Linked DNA regions of Homo sapiens: region 1 is linked to region 2. The links come from fine-mapping of genetic effects on gene expression. A gene starts in region 2. The other region holds a variant in brackets. All regions are shown on one strand. Distances are from middle to middle.

Region 1 (2,917 bases), 47 kb after region 2:
GAGTCTAACCACTTCTCACCAGCTTCTGTTGTTACATTCCAGTCCAAACCACTCTTATTTCTTACTTTCACAATAGCCCAAGAGGCCCACTTGAGCTGCCCTGCTAGCCTGTCACTGCCTCTCTGACACCCTTTTATATTATTCTTCTCTTTGCATGTTCTAATCCAGCCGCAATGGCTTCCTAGCTGTTCCTCATCCAAACATACTATCCTTAGGGCCTTTGCCCTTTCTTTCTTCTGCCTACAGCTTTCTTCCTCCAGATGTGTGTATGAATTTCTCTTAATTCCTTCAAAGACTATTTTTTCAGATGTCAATTCTGAGGAAGGCCTTTCCTAACCACTCTGTTTAAAGTTGTGAATAGTCTTCATGCCCCAGCATTCACTATTCCCCTTTTCTGCTTTACTTTTCTTCATGGCACTTAAAACCTTCTAACATACTATATAATTCACTTTATTCAGTTTATTGTCTATTGCTAAAATATGACAAGGATGTCTGTTTTATCTTTCCTTACCATATACAGTAATGCCAGGTACAAAGTTGGTGCTTAATAAGCATCTGCTGAGTACATGTATGAATTCTCATTGAAATTCTACTTCTCTCCTTGTCTGATAAAAGGACTGAATGTCACAAAGAATGGGAGGTACTCTGATGAGATGGAGTCTGGGAAAGAGAAGGGATACTTCAAAATACTGAAGTAACTGCAGCTTACCTAGAATCCAGATGGAAGAAAACATACATTCCTGATCCTGACAATTTGACTTCTCAAAGAAGATAGCATTCTGTAAAACACAAAGACAAGGATAAAAAGCCATAAATGAGAGAATTTAGCACTAGATCATTTACACTCAAAGGATTTAACAATGGGTAAACTACAGTTAAAAAGAACAGATGGGTTTTCTTATCTAATCCCTTAAATTCAATTCTGTAGAGTCTTAAATCATCCCATATGACTCTTTAGAGAAAAGGACAATACAGAATCTATAACCCATCTGCACAATCTATAGCTTCCTTTGCAACTATAACAACATTGAAGGAAAGGGCTCCTAACACTAAATCTTGGTGGTATCTTGAAAACACGAAGGCATTATCTTCCCTACAGGAACTCAGGCTGTCCTGATCCAAAGTGTAATAGGGACTACAAAGTATTTTTGGGATTATAACAAAATTACCACCTTACCACCACTGCAACCCACGTAATCATCACAATTTTGGTAATTCAAAATTTATAACACCCTAAGCTGATTTATATTTCAACCACAAACAACCCAGGAGGTGGTCAATTAGGGGCACAAAAAGAAGTTAGAGAGTCCACACTTAACCATTGATGTCTTTCTCTAGAAGTTTTAACCTGCCTTATCCTTAGGTTAATGGGACTTGCAGTTCCCTCAACAACCTTCCTGCTACTGAGGATCAGAAGCAAAAATGGAACTACTTGGACCCAGGCAACATATAGGGCCATACAGCTGAG[G/A]CTCTCTATGACACTTAGCTTATAGCTGCTAGTATTAAAATGACATGTTTTATGGCTCTAGTTCCAGGTAAGATGGAGTAAATACATGTCACAGATGTCATCCCATTGAATCCAACTATGAAGTCTGGACAGAATGTATGGCCCAGTTATTTGACAACTCCAAAAAGCACATAGCATGCAAGTCAGGAAAGAGCAGAATTTTAAATGCCATTCAACCAGCAGTGATTTTATTTCTTTTTTTTCCCCCTTTTGGTCCTCTTCAGTATGGGGCCTAAGCTCGGTGTAGCCCTAAATATAGAAGTGAGGGAAGTTGTAAAACGTAATTGTCAACTGAGACTTCTCAGAAAACCTGTAAGTTTTCACACCATTTATTTATTTATCTATTTATTTATTTATTTTTATTTTAAGTTCCAGGGTACCTGTGCGGGATGTGCAGTTTTGTTACATAGGTAAATGTGTGCCTATGTAAACATGTGCTATACCTATCAACCCATCACCTAGTTATTAAGCCCACCATGCATTAGCTATTTTTCCTGATGTTCTCCCTCCCCCCGCACCTTGCTACAGTCCCAGTGTGTGTTGTTCCCCTCCCTGTGTCTAACTGTTCACATTGTTCAGCTCCCACTTATAAGTGAGAACATGCGGTGTTTGCACACCAATTATTTAAAATTGGCCATGGAAGTCAGTGGACAGAAAACTGACTTAAATATGAAAAAAAAAAGGAAAATATCTCTAGAGGAAATATAAAGAATGTGGTAATAAAACACAGTCAGAGGGGATAACAGTGGCTACAGAAATCCAAATCTCTCAACACATCCTTTAAAAGCAGTAAGAATAAGAAGAACAAATGTACTATACAAAGCCCACACTGTCACCAAATCCCATATAGCTGTCTCTCACATTCTAGCCATAAGCTATCAAGGAGAGCAAGGACAATCTGAGAATGAGAGGTAAAGAGAAGAGAGCTAGCAGTGGGCAAGACTGACCTAAAATTCATTGCCAGAAAGAAAAACCCACTCTAAGTACAAAAAACTTTATCACAGTAAGTATGTATAGAAAAAAAAAAGCCATTTAGGGTTCAATACTATCTGCAGTTTCTGGTATACACTGGGAGTCTTGGACCATATCCCCCACAAATAAGGTGGGATTACTATATTGTATTTATGGCAGGTGAGAATTAAAGTACACTATTAAACTAAAAAACCATCTGAAGCTGAAATGGCCTTTTAGAAAAGAAAAATTTTAGAAACCCTTAAAAACCAAATAATTAAAGGTTAAATATAAAAATTTATTTTTTTAATGAACTAAAGGCATTAAAAAAGATCTAAGTATGGTCAGGTGCGGTGGCTCACGCCTGTAATCCCCGCACTTTGGGAGACCGAGGCAGGCGGATCATATGAGGTCGGGAGTTCGAGACCAGCCTGACCAACATGGAGAAACCCTGTCTCT
Region 2 (2,917 bases):
GTTCCCAGCACTGTCCTTTGCAGTCAGCTTGTCGCTGGCGCCGATGGGAAGAACTGAAACGCCTCAAGGGTGGGGACGGCGCCCCCTGCTGGTCGCGCCCTCGGGCGACGATAAGAGACTGAGGACCCGAGCCCGCGCGGGGAAAACTGCCCTGAGCTTGGCTTAGGGATGGTCCGCAGGCCGCCTGGTGGGAGCAGGACCGCCGTGGCCCGGTCCGTTCTGCGGTTGCGTAGGTCATAGAAGGAAAAGTGGTTTGTGATCTGATAGGGAATCTGAGGACAGACCCAGGGAGAGCAGAAATAAGCGCGCCGCCGGGGGGTCGCCAGAATTGGAGGCTTGTGCGCCTCTGACAAGTATTTGCAACATAAGTATGCATATGGATAATGTATCAATACACACGTGTAATAGATGCCAAACAAATTCTTCAAATAATTGTCACACATTTAAATTTTCAGACATTCACAAAATCAAATGTAAAATATTAAACTGAAAGTTCACAACTTAAATTTTCAAAAATTAAATCTAATTAAATTTCCAAAGTTGAACTGTTTTCAAAATTAAATTTTAAAATATTCAAAATTCCGAGGTAAATTTCCAGAAATAGTTAAAACCTCAAAACTCAAAATTTTTAAATGAAATTTATAAACTTTAAAAGGTGAGTCATTCCTCAGCTGGAATCGCACCCGGGGCCCTTGAATAAAATGCTATTTTGATCGCTAGAACACATAGAAACTTCTCTAAAATTGTTCTGCAAAATTCCCTAAAAAGCCGGCATCAACCCGCCTTTTAGCGTCTCGACAAGGCGTTCTATAGGGTAGGTTATATTTGGGGATCTGCCTTTTCTGGTTCTGCCTGTCCTGAGTTGGAGATCTGACCGGGAATCTGAGCCTAACCCAAGTTTCCCATCCCGCTTCCACGCTCTGAATCAGGCTTCCGACCTGACACACCACTTCCTCCCTCTCCCCTCGGCCTTCCCCTGGACCCGACTGTATTGCCCAATCATTTCCTTTCATTTGTCATCACCACCTTGGACCCGCCCCCTCGTCTCAGGCCGTCGCACGCGTTTTGCGTCAGTTGGCAAGGCACTTTACGGCCGTCGTGCCGCTCGTGTCAGTCAACATGGAGGCAGAGGAATCGGAGAAGGCCGCAACGGAGCAAGAGCCGCTGGAAGGGACAGAACAGACACTAGATGCGGAGGAGGAGCAGGAGGAATCCGAAGAAGCGGCCTGTGGCAGCAAGAAACGGGTAGTGCCAGGTATTGTGTACCTGGGCCATATCCCGCCGCGCTTCCGGCCCCTGCACGTCCGCAACCTTCTCAGCGCCTATGGCGAGGTCGGACGCGTCTTCTTTCAGGCTGAGGGTAAGTATGCAGGCCCTGACGGTGACAGGAGGAGGTTGTCGCTCGCTGGCGGGGTGCAAGCATGCATGTCCTGTTGCTTCGCTGCGCGAGGCTGAGGCACGAGTTGCTGGATTTTGGGGGTGGGGAGTGCGGTGCTTGGCTCCTGGCTGGTGAATCAGTCTGTGAGGATGCTGGGGTGGGCGGGCGGAGGGGATATGGGGAGAGTGGGTAGCGCAGTGTGTCTGGTGGTTCTTTAGTTCTCGGATTGTTACTATTTGTGTTCTTATCCCGGCTCTGTTCACCTCTCTTTCCGGACCTGTTTACTGGTTTGTTACATGAATACAACCTGAGTAAAAGTCTCGTCAGCTTTTCTACAAAACTGAACATAACTCTTTAGCATTGCTGCCTAGGTCAAGAAACTATTTGATCAACCGCCCCTCTTCTTTCCACCCTCAATTTTACATTGAGGCTGAGGACTTGTGCCGGTTTTAAGCAGCGTTCAGGGCTGGCCAGATTAAGGAGTGGACAATTAAGGAAAGAATTGAGTTAGCTAGAGGAAAGGGTGCGATTTACAGTTCCCTTCCTCCTGGGCAAAAACTCTTCAGGTGGGACTCCCACTGGCAGATGTGAAGAACGTTGCGGGCAGTGGGAGGTGCTTTTGAGTGAGTGCTGCATAGGCGTCCTGGACGGGTCTTTGTCTTTGGCGCGCAGACCGGTTCGTGAGACGCAAGAAGAAGGCAGCAGCAGCTGCCGGAGGAAAAAAGCGGTCCTACACCAAGGACTACACCGAGGGATGGGTGGAGTTCCGTGACAAGCGCATAGCCAAGCGCGTGGCGGCCAGTCTACACAACACGCCTATGGGTGCCCGCAGGCGCAGCCCCTTCCGTTATGATCTTTGGAACCTCAAGGTGAGAAGATAGATCTTTCTGCCACACCTCTCACCCTCCCTTCTCCCCAACTCTGGCCCAAGTATCCCCATGGCCTCTCATTGGCCTTGTCCCCTTGTCTCATCTTTCTCCCTAATCTGCACTATCCTGATCTTTTCTTCTTTTCTGCCCACAGTACTTGCACCGTTTCACCTGGTCCCACCTCAGCGAGCACCTCGCCTTTGAGCGCCAGGTGCGCAGGCAGCGCTTGAGAGCGGAGGTTGCTCAAGCCAAGCGTGAGACCGACTTCTATCTTCAAAGTGTGGAACGGGGACAACGCTTTCTTGCGGCCGATGGGGACCCTGCTCGCCCAGATGGCTCCTGGACATTTGCCCAGCGTCCTACTGAGCAGGAACTGAGGGCCCGTAAAGCAGCACGGCCAGGGGGACGTGAACGGGCTCGCCTGGCAACTGCCCAGGACAAGGCCCGCTCCAACAAAGGGCTCCTGGCCAGGATCTTTGGAGCCCCGCCACCCTCAGAGAGCATGGAGGGACCTTCCCTTGTCAGGGACTCCTGAGGGCCTGGGTGGCCCCTTCCATTTCCTGGCCCTGCTCTGCTTCCTGTCTACCTCATACTAGAATGATCGTGACTACCCGGGCAGACATTTTACTGTGTTTCTCAGACCAAGTGTCTACTGATGGCCCAAACATGG

Evidence for each region.
Region 1: its variant is fine-mapped to the expression of ABT1 in whole blood (INTERVAL, PIP above 0.99).

The regions. Positions count from the first base shown.
Region 1 is chr6:26,642,950-26,645,866 of GRCh38, forward strand. ZNF322 (zinc finger protein 322) reads right to left here. Exons shown (of 4, transcript NM_024639.5): 3 at 710-779. Among named protein-coding and RNA genes, the nearest start is that of ZNF322, 15 kb to the right of the region's middle. The variant G/A (reference allele first, on the strand shown) is at 1,469.
Region 2 is chr6:26,595,864-26,598,780 of GRCh38, forward strand. ABT1 (activator of basal transcription 1) reads left to right here and starts at 1,090. Exons shown (of 3, transcript NM_013375.4): 1 at 1,090-1,360; 2 at 2,051-2,247; 3 at 2,402-2,917. The coding sequence starts at 1,120. The coding sequence ends at 2,782. RefSeq lists enhancers at 1-121, 222-381, 939-1,378.